6 linked regions of the Homo sapiens genome follow. The protein of the gene in region 4 interacts with the protein of the main gene of each other region in a pairwise test. Each region holds a gene or a part of one and is shown on either strand. Other genes may lie near its edges.

Region 1 (3,500 bases), on a different chromosome or scaffold from region 4:
AATAAAGAGATTATTGTAGAGAAAAAAGACATAAGCGAAAAGATCTGGATTTAGAACCAACTCTGCCACTATGAAACTGAAAAAATCACTTAACTTCTCTACATCTCTGTGTCATCTGTAAAAATGAGATTATGCTAAATAATATTTAAAATATCTTGCCATTTTAAATAACATGATTAAGTACCTACTAAAACAGCACAAAATATAAATGCTCCAACATCCAATGCTGCCAAGACCATGATAAAACTAGTACCTATACATTCATTCACTGCTAGTGAAACACACAGCTACAGTGCCCTTGAAAAGCAACATGCCAACATGTAGCAAAAACCATAAAGAATTTCATATCCTTTGACTTAGCAAATTAAGTATAGTATTTTTCCCTAAGAAATAAATCAATAGAAACAAAACGACATACACAAACAAAAATGCACATTTCAGTGCTAGCTACCAGAGGAAAAATTGTTATCAATTTAAATGCTCATTTTTAGAGAGATGTCTTATTAAAGAAAGGCATAGCCAACCATATGAATGCCATGCTGCTATTAAAAAGAATATGAAAATTATGCAAAAACGTTTTAAGTCTTACCAATAAATACTATTAAATGAAAACAGCCAAAAGTCAAAAAGCAGATATGTACTCAGATGTCAACCATACAAAATGTGAACAGATGAGCAAAGTCACATGAAAAATCAAAATAATTATGTTATTAGTTAAGTTTATTGCTTACAATTCTAAAATATCATCTTTCCACTAACACGTCTTATCATTTAATCGAAAATTTAAAAAATTTTCAAACCCTGCTTTAGTTTGATGGAAAACAAAGTTGTAATGTTTTTGCCTAAATCTCCCAAGTTATTTTTGTTGGCTGACATATTATTGACAATGTTACGCTCCCAGAGTGACGTCTGCTCTTTACTATATAATTCTTTCGTCTTTAGGGATTCTAAAATCTCAGAACATTTGCACTTCTTTCCCTCCGCTAAGAGGAACCAGGATCCAATATTTTGCAGTAACTGACCTGTGGGTGCCTCCACAATATCCAGAAAATTGCTATTATCCTTTTTACAGGACACAGGGCAACTTCACATCCCAAGTTTTTACTTTACAGTAATATATCTCATGTTTTCAGGGGTCTAGAACACCCTCCAGCTCACTTAGGAAATCCGCTCCCAAGCAGCACTGTGCTATAGGAATTTTGTTTCATATAAGGACTTTTATAACCCCTTCATTTCTTAGAAATGTTCTCTTACTAGTAGGTCATTTGTATATCTTTGCTTATAATATCTGGGGAAAAAAAGATTGCAGAGCCAATGAATTAAAAATATGATTCTAGGTCTCCTGTGTGCCAATGAATGCCCTCATTAAAGCAGAATGAGTGAGATGAGATGGGTTTCAAAGCTTTCCATCCCTTTGCCCCAGAGCCACCAAGGCCAGGCACTGAAAGGATGCACAGTAAAATTAAATATCTAAAAATTCATCTTTAATTAACAGAATTGGATTAAAGCTAGACACCACCGCATATCATACGAGAAATGGCTGAGCTGGCTTCCAAGTGCTCTAATTCAATTAGGACGCAGTGAGTGACACTCGGACGGGAAAGGTTAATTGGGGCCGCCAGAACGCAATCATTCCTTACCTAACCAGTCATTAAACTTCTTAACCTCTGAGGGCAGTCCCAGCTCGGTGAAATCGCCTGTGTGGAGAAGGATGTCCCCATAAGGCATCTGGATACCATCTGTTCTGGAGTGTGTGTCTGAGATGCAGACAAACCGCGTGTGGCCCGCTGGTTTTGGAGTGTCATATGGGATGGGGTCGACCCTAAAGTAGACATAACAGATCCCATAACAGTTAAACATATTAGAACCCTTGAAATTGTCGTCGCACATACATATTTATTATTATTCGTGAATGCACCCAGACAAACTGACGCAAAGGCAGAAGGGCCCACTGTAATTAAGGACACTTCTGGGTGTAACAGAGACAGCATCACCCATTTACAAACCCACTGGGCAAATTCAAAAGGACTTACTTACCTGGTAGGAAAATTAAAAGGAATGAATATCTTACATATAGATCTGAAATAACCCAGGAAACTGATAGAGTGATTAATGGTGAAGTTTAGGGATACTGAACCTCAACTGGGGAAGCAAAATTATGCTATTTCTCTCTCATCATGCTCCAATTGATCCCACTACTCATTAGGAAATAGATAACTAATTTATTCCTTCTTAAACATGCATAACTTAAGCAATGAACTAATTTACAGAGAGCAGTCTGCACATGCTCTGCCAACTGAGATGTGGAGAGATAGCACTTATATTTAATTTCCTTTCCACAACCATTCAACACCTGTATCTTCTGGTTTTTGCTATTCACAAATCAAACCGTAGGGAGAGAAGGTGATGCCAAAATAACAGAGCTTTAAAAATTAAAAAAAAAAAAAGACACTGGATGTTAAAAGAACTTTGTCAAACTCGTTTTTACTGCGATGAATTATCTGCAGTCCCAGTTACACCTGAGGTTACCAGGAATGCTCAAATGCCTTGGGCAAAGATTCTATTCAGTACAAATATTAAGCCTTTTAATGGGATGTATATATCTACATATACGTTAATATATGTATAGTTTTAGAGACCTAAGCACTGTGAAATTACACCAGGGCATAAGAATCAAAAGGCAAAATGATCAACCCAAAGCAAAGAAAATGAAACAGAACATCCTCATTTAATTGAGTGTAACAAAGTGTACTAAATAAACTTGGTAAAGGAATGCAAATCTGACTCTTCAAGCATACAGTTTTAATTATTTAAGGGGTTTGTCGCAGAGTTAAGGATGCTTTAACTATATTAACTCTACACTGACAGCCTCCTTTAATTTCTCTGTAGGAATGTACACTTATTTTCGGATTATAGGTGAAAAGAAGCAGTTATAAATGCAAAGAGAAGGTCACAAGAGAAGCAAATATGCAATGCAGAGATTAGAGTGTGAAACATTAAATAAGGAACAATATTTCATATCCCAGCCCCAACCCTTGATAGTTAACATGCAGCAGAGAACACACTGAAAGCTCCACACAAGACTCCCTAAACATATTGCCTCTACAGGCTTTGTTTAATTTGTTTTCTCTTTTCCTTTATTTATTTATTTTCTTAAAGAAACAATCTGTTTTAACAATGACAATTTCAGTGAGGGAAATAGAAGAGATCAGTGTGCAACCTGGATAGTCCCACATTTCTTCAATGACTAACCTTTTTATTTCCTCTTATCTGTGTCGGAGAAGGAAAGTAAGAGGAGCAAGAAGGAAGGGAGGAAAGGAGGAGAGTAGGGAGGAAGGAATTGTGAACTGGTTATCACAGTGGGTCTAATTGGAAGCCCAAAAAGAAAGTTTAACTTCCGCAAAAAATTAATGGATTTTTTCTGTTAGAAAGGTTAGAAATTAATATGCTGTTACCACGTAGAAAATTCACTAATCCACTGTGATCTCATTAGTAACCTG
Region 2 (3,500 bases), on a different chromosome or scaffold from region 4:
GGTCTGGAACTCCTGACCTCAGGTGATCCACCTGACTTAGCCTCCCAAAGTGCTGGGATTACAGGAGTGAGCCACTGCGCCTGGCATGTACTTGGTATTTCTGCTCTTAAACCTGTATAAGACATGCGTAGTTTTTGTAATGCAGACTAGCAATTTTTTTTTTTTGGAACGAAGTTTCACTCTTGTTGCCCAGGCTGGAGCGCAATGGTGTGATCTCGGCTCACTGCAACCTCTGCCTCCCGCGTTCAAGCGATTCTCCTGCCTCAGCCTCTTGAGTAGCTGGGATTACAGGTGCCCACCACCACGCCCAGCTAATTTTTGTATATTTAGGTGAGACGGGGTTTCACCATGTTGACCAGTCTGGTCTTGAACTTCTGACCTCAGCTGATCCACCCACCTCGGCCTCCCAAAGTGCTGGGATTACAGGCATGAGCTGCCACGCCTGGCCAGCAATTTTTTTCTTGATTTACTTTTTGAAAATAAAAACCATAAGAAAATAATATTAAAATTATTTTCAAATGCTATTTCAAAAAATATAGGCCATCAGTTCTTTGTAATACTCATCATTTTACATATTATTGAAGTGCTAGGTTTTAAATATATATGGCATTGTAAATTTATGAGTTTATTGACTTAAGTCATATTATTGAAATTTGTTGGGAGTACATTAGCAAACATTTGATTATTAAGCCTTGCAGGAGTTTAAAATTTGGAGTAGAAATTGTGCTCTTACATACAGGAATTTTCAACTAATTTTTATAAGTGTTGTGCATATACAATTAAATAGAACCATGTAATTGTAACTTTCTAATTGGAATGACTTAAGAATTCAAACTATTTTCCTCCTTCCTTAGCCAGAATGGTACTTGGCTCAAGTACTTATGTGGATTGGAAACCATACTGAATTTCTGGATGAGAAGATTCAGCCAATATTAGACAAAGTAGGCTCTTTGGTAAACGCAAGGGTAAGAGACTCAGTCATAAGTGTTTCTGTTTTAGAACTGTATGTGTGCATGGATAACTTTTTATTTACATACCTCATGTTTGTGTATTTTTTTAGCTTGAATTTTCTCGGGGCCTTATGATGCTGGTTCTTGAGAAGTTAGCCACTGATATTCCTTGTCTGCTATATGATGACAATCTCTTCTGTCATTTGGTGGATGAAGTACTCTTGTTTGAAAGGGAGCTACACAGTGTTCATGGCTATCCTGGCACTTTTGCTAGTTGTATGCATATTCTATCAGAGGAAACCTGTTTTCAGAGATGGTTGACGGTGGAGAGAAAATGTAAGTGCTGATGTGGCCAGATGGTAGGGAGATATGTCTGTTTCTGTGGGTATACATTTTTGATATTTTTCTTCTCCAGTTCTAAATAGGAACTAGAGCCATTTGAAATTTCCTTTTCAGGGTTTTCTGTTTCCTTCAGAGATAATCTTTTCTTTACTTCACATGAAACTTCCATTTTTCCTGAAATTACACTCTACATATTTCTAGAGTGGAATAGTCAAGCCAGTGGGGTGTTTGTTTTATAGATTTTATCATATAATTTATTTTATTTTTATTTATTTATTTTGGGACAGACTCTTGCTCTGTTGTCCAGGCTAAAGTGCAGTAGTTTGATCTCAGCTCATTGCAACCTCCACCCCCTGCGTTCAAGCGATTCTCCTGTCTCAGCCTCCCGAGTAGTTAGGATTACAGGCACGCACTACCACGCCTGGCTAATTTTTCTGTTTTTAGGAGTGACAGGGTTACAACATGTTGGCCAGGCTGGTCTGGAACTCCTGACTTCAAGTAATCCACCTGCCTTGGCCTCCCAAAGTGTCAGAATATTTTATTTTTTTATTTTTGAGATAGGGTCTCACTTTGTCACCGAGGCTAGAGTGGAGTGGGCCGATCATGGCTTACTGCAGCCTCGACCTCTGGGGCTCAGGTGATCCTCCTGCCTCAGCCACCCCAGTAGCTGGGAGTATAGGTATATGCAAGCCATGCCTGGCTACTTTTTGTATTTTTTGTAGAGATGGGGTTTCCCTGGGGTTTTGCCCAAGCTGGTTGTGAACTCCTAGACTCAAGCAATCCACCCACCTTGGCCTCCTGGAGTGCTGGGATTACTGGTGTGAGCCACCGTGCCTGGCCAATAGAATATTTTTTACTGTAGCTTATCTAGTCAACATAACTATTTTCAGAATTTGGGGATGGGAGTAAAGTATCCTGTTTAAAGCATTAATTAAGTTAAATTTAGTACAACCAGTGGGATATTGTAGGTTTGTTTCTTTTTTATAGAAAAGCCATCATTCCTAAAAAATTACAAGTTGAATAATTAGGAACGACTGTAACTACTTAATTGACATAATTGTTTTGTCTGCTTATCAGTTGCTCTTCAAAAAATGGACTCAATGCTTTCCTCAGAAGCTGCCTGGGTATCGCAATATAAGGATATCACTGACGTGGATGAAATGAAAGTTCCAGATTGTGCAGAAACTTTTATGACTCTACTCTTGGTTATAACTGGTAAGTATGTCTTTTAAGATATGACTTTGTTTTAAAAGTACTGTTTTCACGTGGTAGTTTTTAAAGTAGCTCAGTAGGCTGGGTGCAGTGGCTCATGCCTGTAATCCTAGCACTTTGAGAGGCTGAGACGGGCAGGTTGCTTGAGCCCAGGAGTTCGAGAACAGCCTGGGGTACATGGTGAAATGCCCTCTCTTCCGAAAAAATACAGAAATTAGCCAGTTGTGGTGGTGTGTGCCTGTAGTCCCAGCTACTTGGGAGGCTGAGGTGGGAGGATTTTTTGAGCATGGGAGGTAGAGGTTGCAGTGAGCCATGATCACGCCACTGCAGTCCAGCCTTGGTGACAGAGTGAGACCCTGTCAATAAAGTAATCAATAAATAAGTGGCTCAGCAAATTAATATTATATGATGGTTGTTATCTTCAAATTCAGTTTCTATATTGGTAGAAATCTAACACAATATTCTAACTTTTGGGTTTTTAATAATTTAAGGATTTAAACATTGGTATACATGAAGGAAAACTTCCTGAATAATTACACAAAAACAATTAAATAGGAATTTAATTTTATTATCCAAACTGTCTTGCTATTGGGCTTTTTAGGTGTCTTCAGTAAATGGTGATTGGCCTATATTTTAAATATTGTCTTGATCTTGATTTATCAAAGATTGCAGAAGAGAGTAAAATAATGAAGTAATTTTAAGGATTGGAGTAGTAATAGGAACTTTTGTTACAGTGCAGGGATTCTCTGGCTGGAGGGTAGCCTAGCATCCTCTGGCCCTGGTTGGTCTTTAGCCAATCACGTTGCCCCCTTGTGGGCCTGCTTGTTGTCCAGGTGCCACTGGACCCTCATTGCCACCATCCCTGGCCCTCTTCACCTTCGTCAACCACTAGCCTGTCCGTTTCTTAGGCTTGTCTGGTAACCTGAAGAAGTATCATTCCAGCCCAGTCAGTAAATAATTCCTTTTTTTTTTTTTTTTTTTTTTTTTGAGATGGAG
Region 3 (3,500 bases), on a different chromosome or scaffold from region 4:
TTGAACCTGGGAGGTGGAGATTACAGTGAGCCAAGATCGTGCTACTGCATTCCAGCCTGGGCGACAGAACGAGACTCTGTCTCAAAACAACAAAAAAAGTGGTAGTATTAACAAGTTTCATAGGTGTCTAATATTTTCTTTTTATATTTATTATAAAGATACTATGAAAAGCATTAAAAATATTTAGAAGATAGAGGGGAAATATTTATTCAACTTCCTTAATGGATGAATAATTTTTTCCTGTGGGGCAATTTCTGTTTTGTTGTTGTTTTGTTGTTGTTTATGCATACCTATATATTTCTTAACACATTTGCAAATCCTAGAATTAGACCACTGTGACTCACATAGAGCATGTGTAGGTTTTTTCCTTTGTTAAAAATGAACATAATTATGATTTAACCACATGGAAGTTACTGTTCAATGTTAATATTATAATGATACCAGAAGATACATTTAAAATTTCATTATTTGCCTTTTAGTTATCCAAGCATTAGGTGAACATCTTAAATTAAGACAACAAGTTATTGCCACTGCTACGGTATATTTCAAGAGATTCTATGCCAGGTAGGATTGTTTTTATTTTATTTATTTGAACTCTTATCTAATGTTGATGAACCTTAGCACAGTGTAAATGAATCATGTGTCTACCATAGAGTTATCTTGATTTTTTTCCCAGTGTGTTTTCTGTATGAATGATATTTAACTTTGTTTTATCATATTTTAGGTATTCTCTGAAAAGTATAGATCCTGTATTAATGGCTCCTACATGTGTGTTTTTGGCATCCAAAGTAGAGGTATAAAACAATTTTCTGTTCTTCATCAAAGTGTAGTCAATGTATGTTGGTTAATCTGCCCCAGTTTTCACATGGCCTATGTAAAATTAATAAATGGTAATTTATGCAAAATACTAAAATTGTACAAAATCAAAGAAATATATACATATCCTTATATATTCACTTAACAGACACATACAGCACTTACTGTGTACCAACTGACTTAATCTTTGTAACAAACTGGAATACATAGTAGTAGTATTCCCATTTTATAAATGAGGAAACTGAGACAGAGATGAAGAACTTGCTTAAGATGATATAGCTAGTAAGTGTGAGAGCCCGTGTTTGAACCATGGGAGTCTCGTTACCAATCCTGTGTTCTTAACTACTTTCCTCTGCTGCCTTTGAGACATCTATTGTTTGGCACTGAGTAGTATTCAGTAAGTACCACAGCTTGCCTACCATAACCTGAGAATGTCCCTTATGCTTCTCACCCATATGCTTATCTTCTCCTGTCTTCCCTCCCATCATCCTGATGATTGGCTGCCTACCAAGCCAGAAGGAAGGCAAGGATTAGGGGAAGCTATAGCTATATAGAGTCTAACAAGTAAAAGTTGAGGTTGTGAGCGTAGAGAAATTAGGTAAGGGAGAGAAGATAGATAGGAACTTGCGGCAGAGACTGAATTTCTGTTCAACTGTTTTACCTTTGTAGTATTTTTGAAAGAGCTCAGCTAAAGTCCAGAAAATAATAGCAGATATTGGCTGTTTTTCATAAATAATGTAGTCTTTGGTGGTGTGAAATCTTTGCATTATGTTTCTATTTTTGGATAATGTCTTAGAGTTCTATTCTTAGAGTTGTATTCTTGAATATTGAATGTGATTTTTACCTAGTAAGTTTACATTCCTTTTGGCACCCACTTTGATTTAGTTTTGTTTTAGCCATGATTTAAGGTTATCCATGACATCTTTCCCAACTGTTACCTAAATAATGACAATTGACTCTGTTAGAAATAATATTAAGACAAGCTTTCTAGAAGTTTATGTTTTCTAATTGTGAGTGGTAGTTTAAGAAGGCAGAATCAGTTAAGGTCCTTATTATGGATTGAGTTTTCTAATTCTAATAATTCTATGTAATATTTGATTTTATTTAAATATTACCATGTAATAATTTAAAGTCTCTTAAGCACAGGCAGTATGGAGGACCAAGACAAAAAATCTTTATAAACATTTAATCTTGTAGATTAATTTGAGGATTTTAATCTATCTTACTTGTTAAATATTGTTATGTGATTTACTGAGTAGAACTCTGTGATGTGATTTACTGAATGAAAGTTTTCCCTTTGAGTTTTGGATAAAGAATTATTCCTAGGCCGGGTGTAGTGGCTCACACCTGTAATCCCAGCACTTTGGGAGGCTCAGGCGGGTGGATCACCTGAGGTCAGGAGTTTGAGACCAGCCTAACCAACATGGCAAAACCCCGTCTCTACTAAAAATACAAAAATTAGCCGGATGTGGTGGCAGATGCCTGTAATCCCAGCTACTAGGGAGGCCGAAGCATGAGAATTGCTTGAACCCATGAGGTGGAGGTTGCAGTGAGCCAAGACTATGCCACTGTACTCCAGCCTGGGTGACAGAGCAAGATTGCATCTCAAAAAAAAAAAAAAAAAGAATTATTCCTGAGAAAGAGAATGTAGTCTTTCAGATTTGGTCGTAGCATTATTATTATTTTTTTTTTATCTCTGTGACCAAATCTTTCTGTATTTTCTCTAGTTTTATGGAAATTGTATGGAAAGCTCATTTAAGAACATGTCTCAGGCTTTTACTTTTTCTTTTCAGTTATTATAGTTGGAGGTTTAAATGTAAAACAAATATATTAGTACACATACATTTCCCCTACACAGGATAAGGATGTAGGCTGAAGGTATTTAAATAGATTTTTAGTTTAGCTCCTTTTGTTGGATAAGAAACCAACTCTTGATTTTTTTATTTTAAAATGAAGTGAAGGCTTTAGAAATCTTACGAGGCAATAAATGAAACAGTATATATAAGGTGGATCATAATAAATTTTAGTATTTTCACAATGGTGGTTGTTCAGTTGAAAGAGGAAATGGGAACTGACTTTGGAAGTCTTACGTAATTCCTGTCTCCCTGTTCTAAAAAGGATAGTAACTATTTATATGGTTTTTTTTTTTTTTTAGTTCTTTTGGTGATTAATTAAGGTTTATCTTATTCACAAATTCAACTGTTTTACCATAGAATGGCATGAAGTATCTGTTAATACAGGTTGAATTGAATAGGAAACATACTTAATATTCTTGCAATTAAGTATAGAATGTAAACAATCTTCTTGGAAACTAATTTAAATGGAAAAACTGACACTGTAACCTTAAGGCTTGGTTTCTAATTTGGTACCTTTTATTGTTATTAAATTATAAAATTATTTTAAAATATGTCTTAAGTTGTAGCAATTTGGGGGAGAGGTAATACAGGCAGAATATCCGTAATCTGAAAATCCTAAATGCTCCAAAATTTGAAACGTTTTGAGGGCCAACATGACATTCAAAGGAATGCTCATTGGAACATTTTGCATTTCAGATTTTTAGATTAGGGATGCTCAACCAGTGTAATGCAAAATATTCCTAAATCAGAAAAATCTCTGATCCTAAGCATGTCAGATAAGGGGTAATCAGCCTGTACATTTAGGAGTGTAAGTACTTCACACCTCAA
Region 4 (2,872 bases):
TTGGTGCTGAAATGTTAGGTTGTGCAGACCCCAACCTCCCTGACTTCCTTCAGTAACTGACAGTGTAGCATTGTTCTTGATTAGTTTGGCACTCCATTACGTGGAGGCAGCACAGTGCAGACAGACCTAATGGCTCTGCCACTTACTAGCTGGTTTGGGCAAATGAATTTTCCCTTCTGTGCTTCAGTTTCTTCATCTTTAAAATGAGAATAATAATTTATACCACATAGAGTAGCTACTATTATGATATTGTCTGTGGCCACATCCTTCTCTTCCATTAGAAGAAGCCCTTCAAGGGCAAGGACCATGTCTTATCTACTTGCACTGTTCACCCTTCACATCAACCCTGTTACAGCACTCTGTTCTGCTGGACCACTTATTGTAGTTGTAGCTAATTGTGAAAGTATTTGTTTAATATCTGTCTTCTCCCTAAAATGTCAGCCTACTGAAGATGAACCATCTCTTTCATGTCTACCCATCTCCCAGTTGCATAGTACAGTGTCTGACAGGTCTTAGGAACAGCAAGGAGCTCAGTGTGGCTGGAGCAGAAAAAAATTGTCAGTACCTTTGCTCATGCCATGCCCTCAGCCTGGAATGCCCTTTGCTCTTTTAGCCTGTATACAAAATGTATTTCAAGGATCACCTCTTCCTGGAAGCCTTCCTCTTTTCCACCATCCAAAACCCTCTTAATACCCTGTGTACATCCCTGCCATTGCTCTTGCCAGATTGTGGTCTATGTTTGATCTGTGTCCCCAACTAGACAGGGAGTTCTCTGAGGACAGGATTTAATTCGATGGTATCATTAGAACCCAGCACATGGCCCTTAGACTGAGATTCAGAGATATGAAATGATTTACCCAAAATCACACAGCTCAGAAGCAGCAGAACTGACATTGGGACCCAGGTCCATTGGAGGCATCTTTTAGTTATGCGCTTGAGAAATCGTTGTTGCTGCACCTAGTTCCTTCCACATCCCTACAACTCGGACACTAACCCCCTCCTAAACATTCGTACACACACAAACACAAAACTTGCTGAACAAATGGCTGGATGAGTGAAACAGGAATGGAGCAAGCCAGTACAGTACCCCGGCCATATTTCTCTGTGTAGATGCGCTCAGTAACCAGCTGCGCCTCGCCATGGATGCACAGGCCACCCATCTGGCCAGGCTGGAGGAGTCCTGTCGTGCGGCCATGATGTGTGCCATGGCCAACGCCAACAAAGCGCAGGTATGGCCTGAGCCATGCAGTACCTTGGGCTCTCCCCAACTCCTGAACAAAATCCTGGAGAACCTTAGCCATATTCTTCCTCTTACATCCCCTCTTAAATCAGCATCAGCCCTCTCATCTGAGTACTCCCCCTTCACTGAAGGCCCCTCTTAGGGTACAAGTCACTTCTCCCCACCTCCAGAAGCAGGATGACTTGAGAATAGAACATTGCCCTCTCATCCTCCGCTTCCCAGTCTAAAGGCTTCCTGAAGGCAGAGAAGTTCCCTGCCCATTCTCCCCAACACATATTAGGGGCATTGAAAGGCCATGCAGTATCTGTTCTTTCTCCTTGAGATGGAAGAGTAGGGCCATGTTCCCCCCTCCCCTGTGACAGAGTTCCCTGAGGTTGGGCACCCAAATGTTTGCATTTGGGGGCTCCACCAGGCAGCTGTGCAGGCTGGGCGTCAGCGCTGTGAGCGTCAGCGTGAACAGAAGGCCAACCTTGCGGAGATCCAGCACCAGAGCACGAGTGACCTACTGACTGAAAACCCCCAGGTCGCCCAACACCCTATGGCTCCCTACCGGGTCCTGCCCTATTGCTGGAAGGGCATGACTCCAGAGCAGCAAGCTGCCATCAGGAAAGAGCAGGAAGTACAACGCTCTAAGAAGCAAGCACACCGTCAGGCTGAGAAAACACTGGATACTGAATGGAAAAGCCAGACCATGAGCTCAGCCCAGGCAGTGCTGGAGCTAGAAGAGCAGGAGAGGGAATTGTGTGCTGTATTTCAAAGGGGTCTAGGATCCTTCAACCAGCAGCTGGCTAATGAGCAAAAAGCCCAGTGAGTTCTAGGTGGTAGTGGTGGAGATAAATGCCAAGGGAGGGAGAGGAGGGATGGTGAGGAACCATGGAGAGAGGGAAAGCATGTCAGCTGAGACCTCTGGACTTCTTTCACAGGCAGGATTACCTGAATTCAGTAATCTACACCAATCAACCTACAGCCCAGTATCACCAGCAGTTTAACACCAGCAGCCGCTAAGTTCAGGATGTCTATCTCTCTCTCCCTTCTCCTCCATCAAGCTCACAGGTGGTTAGGAGTCAAAGAGAAAAATGCTGCATACTCCCACCTTCTAACCTAGGTAATAAAGTTCTGCACTCAAAATCAAGTCCACATGTTGTAACAGGACACAAAGTATTATGAAGGTACTGCCTTTCCCACCCCACCCTGGAGCTCTGAGCATCCAACCCTGTCACAGCCTTCACATTTCTTCCCCATGCCAGGCCCCCTAGCACACAACACTGCCTACACTCTGTGAGAAAAAGAGACTTTATTAGGCACAGAGGGCGACTGGTAGGCAGTTACAAAATGGCTACTGGGCTTCCTCCCAAGCTGGAGAGTAGTACCCCAGGGAAAGGAAGGGCAGAGGAGCGTGTGTTTTCTCTGCCTTCTCCCTTCAAGGCTGCATACGAATGGCCCCATCCAGCCGGATGACCTCTCCATTGAGGAATGGGTTCTCGATGATGGCCTGTACGAGGTGAGCATACTCAGCAGGGTCACCCAGTCGGCTAGGGAAGGGCACTTGGCTGGCCAAGAAGTTGCACACTTTCTCTGGGAGGCTGGTCAGCAGTGGGGTGCCAAACAGACCTAAACAATATAGCCAAATTC
Region 5 (3,500 bases), on a different chromosome or scaffold from region 4:
TGGCCAAAGTCACCCAGCTGGTAGAATGGCAGGACCAGGATTCAAAATGTAGTTAGCGTCGTCCAGCATCTGTGTGCGTTGCTATCATGCTGACTGCTCAGTTCATGCAGAGACATATTGCATTCCAGGAGGGAAGACTCGGTCTCATCAAATGATCCAACATAACTGGACTGAGCTCTCTGGCAGGGGCTGAAATGCAAAGCGTCTGTCCGAGGTGAATGTCAGTAGAATGGCACACAGCCACGGAGCTGCCGGTTTCCCACGAGTGCACTTAATCATACAGAGGTCCAAGTAGCATGAGGCTCCATCTTGAGATTCACCTGTCAGGGATCGGAGCAGGAGCCGCACCCATCACTTCTCCTCTGCATTCCCTCCTCTAAGTCCGCTAGCACAGATGTGATGGAGTGGCAGGACAGATCCTTCCTAACTCAACCCTCCTGTCCTCCTCTCTTAGATCCAGGAGATGGTCCACTCGGAAGTGGCTGCCTATGACTCGGGCCGGCCCGGGCCCCTGCTGGGTCGCCCGGCAATGCTGGCCAGCCACATGAGTGCCCTCAGCCAGTCCCAGCTCATCTCGCAGATGGGCATCCGGAGCAGCATCGCCCACAGCTCCCCATCACCGCCGGGGAGCAAGTCAGCGACCCCCTCTCCCTCCAGCTCCACTCAGGAAGAGGAGTCGGAAGTGCATTTCAAGGTATGTGCGGTGGAGGAACAGAGCCTGAAGCTGCCCTCCTGTCGGCAGGGAAGGGGTCCTGTGGGGAAATGGGCATCACCTCCCTCTAGTAAAGACTAGAAAAGCCTGATGTCCCAAGGTCCCCGTAGGTGCCATTCCCACTGAGCAGGCGTTCCTGGTGGCGGTTGGGATGTCCGCCACAGAGCTCAGTGGTTTTCTGTTAAGACCCCCAGGCCACGCTGGAAGCCAAGGAAAAAGCACATTGGCAGGTGGAGCACCTGGTCAGGGGGGATGGCACCTATGGGGCTTTGTGGCATCGGGCTTTGGCTGCTCCAAGTGCTGAGCGTCCTTGACAAGCTGTGTTCCCTCGGGGCTCCCACAGCCTTGTGCGTAAAGCAGAGAAAATTCCAACAAATGTTGAGGGGATGGGGTGAGAAGATCCTGTGAAAGTTGGCAAAGACTGACTCCTGAAGGCCAGTGGGCGATTTCAGAGGTGTGGACGGCTTCAGCAAGGCCATCGGGGTCACATTTATGGCCATTTGGCCCTTTTAGGAGAAAATATTCTGACAAAACTGTGTGGTCCAGAAGACAGCACCTCTGGGCCTAGAGTATTCACTGACCTTGAGGGTGGGGTGCAAAAATGACCGCCCCACTGGGAACATGCATTCCCCCAACATTCCTGGAGTCTAGAGTGGTTTGACCTCCTCAAGAACATGGTAGGGATGAGAGCCCGCCACCTGTCCGGGCTCTGGCCCTTCTTTGCATTGACTCCAAATCCACCTCCCGGTGAGAGAACATCTTGTCTTACCAGGGAGGAAAACAGAGGCCCAGAAATGCCAAAGACAGAAGTGTTTGCCCAGGGCCTCCCAGCGAGCTAGTGGCAGAATTAAGACTTATCTCCCTCCGTGCCTCCTGCCTCTGTCGATCCAGTGTCCTTTCCACGTGGTGGCCTCCCGAGGCCTAGGGCAGTAACCCTGGACTTTGGGGGAAGAGGGGTTTACTTCTGGATCCTGGCCCAGCTTCATCCTAAGGATGACTCGACCTCTATTATAGTCCATGCAGGAACGGTTTTTATTTAACAAACACTCTCTATGGGCCAGACACTGCTCTAAACACATAACAAGTATACGTCCATGTAATCCTCATAAAAGTCCTATAGGGCAGGGACTGTTATTATCTCTGTTTGGCAGATGGGGACACTGAGGCACAGAGAGGTTAAGTAATGTATCTGGTGTCACACAGCTAGTAAGTGGGGGGAACCAGGATTCAAACCCAGGAGGCTGCAGGTGCAGTCCAGTGTATGTGCCCTCAACCCCCTGCCCTGCTGTGCCTGTTCAGGACTTTATCAATGACAACATGCCTCTTCATCCCTGATCTTGCTAGGGTCACACCACGGTGCTAACACAACTGGGGCTTGGAGAAGGGAGTAGCTGCAGAGATAAGCCTCAGGAACAGAACCATGTCCTTCAGACATGGATGCCTGATCATGCCTACTGGCCCATGGCTTTGTCATCAGGTCAACATGTCACCTCCATCTTCTTGGCTCCTAGAGCCAGAGTCTTCACTACAGGGTCCAGGGCTTTTGACCAAAGTCCCCTGTTCCTACATGGCTTGAGTGACCCAACAGAGACCCACTGAGGTCTGTGGTGGGCATCCCAACACCACCCCATCCTGGAAGCCCTAAGTCAAGTGTTCACAGGATCATGGTCCTGCAGTCTGTCCAGAGTGAAGCCACTGGTTCCAGGGCTGACGCAGTAACAGTCGCTTTAGCCTCGTGCCCTCCCCACTTCACAGGGTCAAGGGACTAAGCCACCTGCTCAAAGCTGCACAGCTGAAACATGGCGGTGGAGACCAGCCTTTTGTAATGCAGGATCCTTTTTGGGGATTGTGCTCACAAGTGGGAGGGCAGATATATACACACACACACACACACACACACACACACACATATATATATACACACATATATATACAGACATATATATACTATATATACACATATATATACATATATACTATATATATACATATATACTATATATACACACACATATATATACTATATATACACACACATATATATACATATACACACACACACACACGTATATACACATATACACACATGCACACACACTCCAAACTTGGAAATAGGCCCCCAAATAACTGCACATTCTTTCAATGTCATACCAAAGCCTTGGCTAACAGGCTCACTCAATAATTATCTGATTCCCTAGGAAACTGGACCTTTGCTTTGATTCATTATTCACTATTGATTAGGGGATTTCACAACTCTGTAAAAGAAGATGTTACCTTGGGCGGGGGAGGGGAAGTGATAAGAGATGTAAGGGATTTTTGTCTGATTATAAGGCAAATTAACTTTGCCCGGTAGAGATGCAAATTTCTGTCCAGTAGAAAAGATTAAAAGTCCCAAAGGTGATAGTTTCAGCGCTCTATTGGGCACTAACCAGTTTCACGTGTAATTTAGTAATCTAATTCCAGCATTCTTTCCATTCTTTCAGTGACTATACAGTCCGTCTTCTCCTCCTGCATTTCTCTGAATCAACTTTACAATCATGCTGATTCTCTTTAATGAGTTAAACACCCACCCAGGGTGTGTGTGTCTGTCTGTCCATTGCCCCCTCCATCGCGCGAGTGGTTATCTGTGCATGAGCAGGGCTGGAGAAGTGCAGCTCGGCCCAAGTCTGTGTTGATCGCCTTTGGCAGGAGGCCCTTGGGCTTCTTTGGTTTTCTGACTCTTCTCACTCGGGCAGATCTCGGGAGAAAAGAGACCTTCAGCCGACCCAGGAAAAAAGGCCAAGAACCC
Region 6 (3,500 bases), on a different chromosome or scaffold from region 4:
ACCGCATCAGGAGCTGCGGAGGGGTGGGATCGAGGCCAGGCCAGCATGGCGGAGGTGGCAGCCGCCAGAAAATGGCGCCTACAAGCCAGTTCTTCTTGGCCTCAGGGACAGCACAGGCCTGAGGTTCACCCTGAGCCCTTCCCACCCGCATCCTGAGTGGCGCTGCAGGGCTGCTGGATGAAGGACAGGAGGTGGTCGCCTGTTGCCCCACTGGCTGCTCCAGGGCCTCCACCCCCACCTCCCCCTGGAGCCCTCGGTGCAGGGAGGGCTTCTGTCCTCAGACCCAAGTAGGAGAGGGCTGCTGGGAGGCGAGAGGGCATCAGCCAGAGGGCTGGGCTGGGCTGGGCTGGGCTGGGCTGTGGGAGCCCTATGTGCCTGGGGCAGTAATCAGGCAAGGCCCAAGGCCATGCGAGGCCACCGTGGTGACCTCATTCATGGACCGCTGGTCGTCCCATGCCGGTCAGCAGTGCTGCAGACACAGGACAGAACGTCCCCTGCAAAGCGAAAAGACTAATAGGTGCCAGGGGGGTGGTGCCAGGTTGGGCCGACTTCCTGAGGTGGCTGGCAGGTGGGTGAGGGGCAGGCTTGGGGGGAGCAGCTGCCCCACCCATGTGTCCCCCACTCCCAAAGGTCTTGAGTTTGCCAGCCCCCGAGAAGGGATGCCTGCCTCCCAGAACGTACCTGGTGCCCCCCAGGCCTGCTAAGGACCAGGCTGGGAACACCAGGCTTGGATGTGGTGCTGGGCTGCCGGAGTTTCTTTTTCTTATCTTATTTTTAATAATTAAATGTTTTTATAGAGATAGGGCCTCACTATGTTGCCCAGGCCAGTGTCAAACTCCCAGCCTCAAGCGATCCTCCCATCTCGGCTTCCAGAAGTGCTGGGATTATAGGCGTGAGCCACCGTGCCCAGCCATCCCCTGGGTTTTTGTGCCACAGTGCTCATGGGTTTCTGACGATGACCTCTCCTGGGAAATTGGGGGTGCATGTCAGCCACCGCAGAGGCTGAAGACAGAGGAAGGAGCAGAGGCTCTGGGGCCCTCAGCGAGTCCGTGGGACAAGGTGCTGTGACCGATGGCAGTGGGTGGGTAGGGGATGGGCTGGAATGTGCCCCCCAGGATGTCCAGGCCTATTTCTACCCATGGCCGGGGTTTCCTAAGGGTGGGGAGCTCTGCCGAGAGCTCCTGCGGCACCCCTAGTACCCTCCTGTGTCCCTGGCTCGGCACTGCCACCATCTGGGACCCCAGCAGCAACTGGCAGCAGGGCTGGGAGCAGCTCTGGAAAGGCTCCGCGGAGGCTGCGGCTCTGGGTCCTCCCGACGTTTTCTTTCTTGGAGCCAAGGAAAAGGGGGGCCGGAGTGGGAGGACGCTGGAACAATGCAGCTTCTGTCCCTCTCTGGCTCCTCTGTGCCGCCCCGAGTGCGGGACCCCTTCCAGCCGGCCGGACGCCTCCTCCCCCAGGGCTGGGGAAGGGTCCTCCTCCCCGCCCAGGGCAGCCCGGCAGCCTGGCTGGGGCCGCCGCCCGGCTGCCGCTGTGGGAGGCAGGCTGCACACCTAGAGCCTGGGCGGCCCTGGGTGAGACCCCGGCTCAGCTGAGCCTGGCAGGGACAGGGCCTTGAGGCCGGGAGTCTGGACCCGGCGTTGCGGGTTGGGGGCGCCACGGAAGGACCCACGCAGCCTCCCCATTCGGCAGGTGCGGAGGGCGGGGTGGATCTGCGAGCTGCGGGAGGGGAGGGGGGTGCAGAGCCGCGCTAGAGCCTGGCCGTGCGGAGGGGGCGCCAGGGCTGGGGGCACAGGAGGGCGCTGCCCAGCGGGGTGTGGGCAGGGAGGAGGAAGTCGTCTGGAGGTGGGGCTTCAGCCCGGCGGGGACGCGGTGGGGCGTGGCCTTGCTGTTGTGGGCGTGGTCCATGGGGGCGGTGGGCGTGGCAGAGGCTGGTGGGTTTGGTGTCCCGTTGATAAACACAAGGAGACTTACGTGCGGCTGGAGGACAAAGAGCCTTGGCGCGGCTCAGTCAGCGTATTAATCTCACCGCCCTCTGCTGGCCCCTCCCCAGCCAGCAGAGAAGCCCCAGAAGTGTGTCTGGGGGTCACCACCCTGCCAGCCACTGCCCTTGTCCAGCTCCTCTGGGTGTGTGGCCTCTATGAGACCCTGACAGCAACCAGCCCCCACCTCCCTGGCCAGAGGGCACAGGCCCGGGCCTCCCACACTTGCTCCTGGGCTGCCCACCCCCCACCCCAGCAAGGGTGCCAGGCAGGACGGAGGCTCTGCTGCCACTCTTGGTGCGGGCAGCATGATTGGCATGTTGGGAGGAGGGAGCCGGCCCTGAGCCCTGCAGGACCGCCCCCTGCCCTTGGCCTGTCCCCGATGGCCCTGCCTGTCCCACAGGATGTGCGACTGCCCTCGGCCCTGCTGACCGTACTTCTCAGCCCTCCACCGTCTGGGCCCTGCTCAGGGCGTTGTGAGCACGGTACACAAGAGTTACTGGGGGAGCATGCCACCAGCCTTCCTGGGAGAAGTCCCCTGAACGTCCCAACGAGTGGCCTTGGGGTCAGGGATGTGCATGGCATAACCTCCCCTGCAGTTTAGGCTGTGGGCTCCAGCCCTGGCCAGCTGATCAAGTGACTTGACCCACTTGTGCCTCAGTGTCCCCATCTGGGGAACGGGCCCATCAGTAGTGCTGGGAACAGAGCTTGGCAGGGGTGAGAGGCCAGCGAGCCTGAGGGCCCGTAAGCCTGTTGCGTTCGGGCCCTGGGTGGACGAGGCAGGTGTGGCTGCAGCACCATCCGCCTGTTCCAGCAGCCCAGTGGCCCTTGGGCAGCCGCCGGGATGGAGGATGCACCCTCTGTCCGTGCGCCTAAGAGGGCCCAGAGGGGACAGTGTGTGGGAAATGGCACACAGGGTCCCGCACGCAGCAGATACACAGTAAATGCCTGCTGCTTGGTCACCAGGCTCCTGCCGTGTGCCAGGCACTGCTGGGGCCCTCACTGGCACCAAGACCGCTGAGCCGCGTCCAGCAGCTGATAGGTGAGGAACGGGGAGCCCAGGAGTGAGCCACATGGGATGAGCTTTGGGAGAAAGAAAAGCCCAACAGGGAGGTGCGGACAGGAACGGGGGAGGTGCGGACAGGATCGGGGGGAGGCGCGGACAGGAGCGGGGGGAGGCGCGGACAGGAGCGGGGTGGGGGCGCGGACAGAAGCGGGGTGGGGCGCAGACAGGAGCAGGGGAGGCGCGGACAGGAACAGGGGAAGCAGGCTGCAGCACCTTTGGGAGATGACCATCATGGTCCATTCCGACTGCCCTCACAAAGCACCGCAGGCCGGGGCAGCAACAGCAGACGTTTACTCCTCACGGCTCTGGAGGCCAGAAGGCCAGGGTTTGGGTGCTGTGTGCTCGGGTGCTGGCGAGAGCCTCTTCCGGGCTGGCAGACGGCGCTTTCTTGTTGTGTCCTCACCTAGCAGAGACAGCGAGGAAGAAGGGGGAGCTTGAGAACACTGGTGGCTTCT

Evidence for each region.
Region 1: the proteins of RIBC1 (region 4) and MPPED2 interact in binary tests that used the Homo sapiens proteins (3 or more experiments, as listed by UniProt).
Region 2: the proteins of RIBC1 (region 4) and RINT1 interact in binary tests that used the Homo sapiens proteins (3 or more experiments, as listed by UniProt).
Region 3: the proteins of RIBC1 (region 4) and CCNC interact in binary tests that used the Homo sapiens proteins (3 or more experiments, as listed by UniProt).
Region 5: the proteins of RIBC1 (region 4) and TOX2 interact in binary tests that used the Homo sapiens proteins (3 or more experiments, as listed by UniProt).
Region 6: the proteins of RIBC1 (region 4) and GPSM1 interact in binary tests that used the Homo sapiens proteins (3 or more experiments, as listed by UniProt).

What each region holds. Positions count from the first base shown.
Region 1 is NC_000011.10:30,534,354-30,537,853, forward strand, and holds part of MPPED2 (metallophosphoesterase MPPED2), read right to left. Parts: intron 1,823-3,500; coding exon 1,641-1,822; intron 1-1,640. UniProt on the Homo sapiens protein: Displays low metallophosphoesterase activity (in vitro). May play a role in the development of the nervous system.
Region 2 is NC_000007.14:105,549,201-105,552,700, forward strand, and holds part of RINT1 (RAD50-interacting protein 1), read left to right. Parts: intron 1-854; coding exon 855-965; intron 966-1,060; coding exon 1,061-1,286; intron 1,287-2,369; coding exon 2,370-2,507; intron 2,508-3,500. UniProt on the Homo sapiens protein: Involved in regulation of membrane traffic between the Golgi and the endoplasmic reticulum (ER); the function is proposed to depend on its association in the NRZ complex which is believed to play a role in SNARE assembly at the ER.
Region 3 is NC_000006.12:99,558,661-99,562,160, reverse strand, and holds part of CCNC (cyclin-C), read left to right. Parts: intron 1-479; coding exon 480-564; intron 565-724; coding exon 725-794; intron 795-3,500. UniProt on the Homo sapiens protein: Component of the Mediator complex, a coactivator involved in regulated gene transcription of nearly all RNA polymerase II-dependent genes.
Region 4 is NC_000023.11:53,428,744-53,431,615, forward strand, and holds the end of RIBC1 (RIB43A-like with coiled-coils protein 1), read left to right. Parts: exon of another isoform or gene 1-1,085; intron 1,086-1,110; coding exon 1,111-1,229; intron 1,230-1,652; coding exon 1,653-2,047; coding exon of another isoform or gene 2,048-2,051; exon of another isoform or gene 2,052-2,163; coding exon 2,164-2,245; 3' UTR 2,246-2,372; downstream 2,373-2,872. Other genes in the region: HSD17B10 (3-hydroxyacyl-CoA dehydrogenase type-2), read right to left, coding at 2,661-2,851.
Region 5 is NC_000020.11:44,050,852-44,054,351, forward strand, and holds part of TOX2 (TOX high mobility group box family member 2), read left to right. Parts: intron 1-454; coding exon 455-694; intron 695-3,447; coding exon 3,448-3,500. UniProt on the Homo sapiens protein: Putative transcriptional activator involved in the hypothalamo-pituitary-gonadal system.
Region 6 is NC_000009.12:136,341,039-136,344,538, forward strand, and holds part of GPSM1 (G-protein-signaling modulator 1), read left to right. Parts: coding exon of another isoform or gene 1-122; exon of another isoform or gene 123-800; intron 801-3,500. UniProt on the Homo sapiens protein: Guanine nucleotide dissociation inhibitor (GDI) which functions as a receptor-independent activator of heterotrimeric G-protein signaling.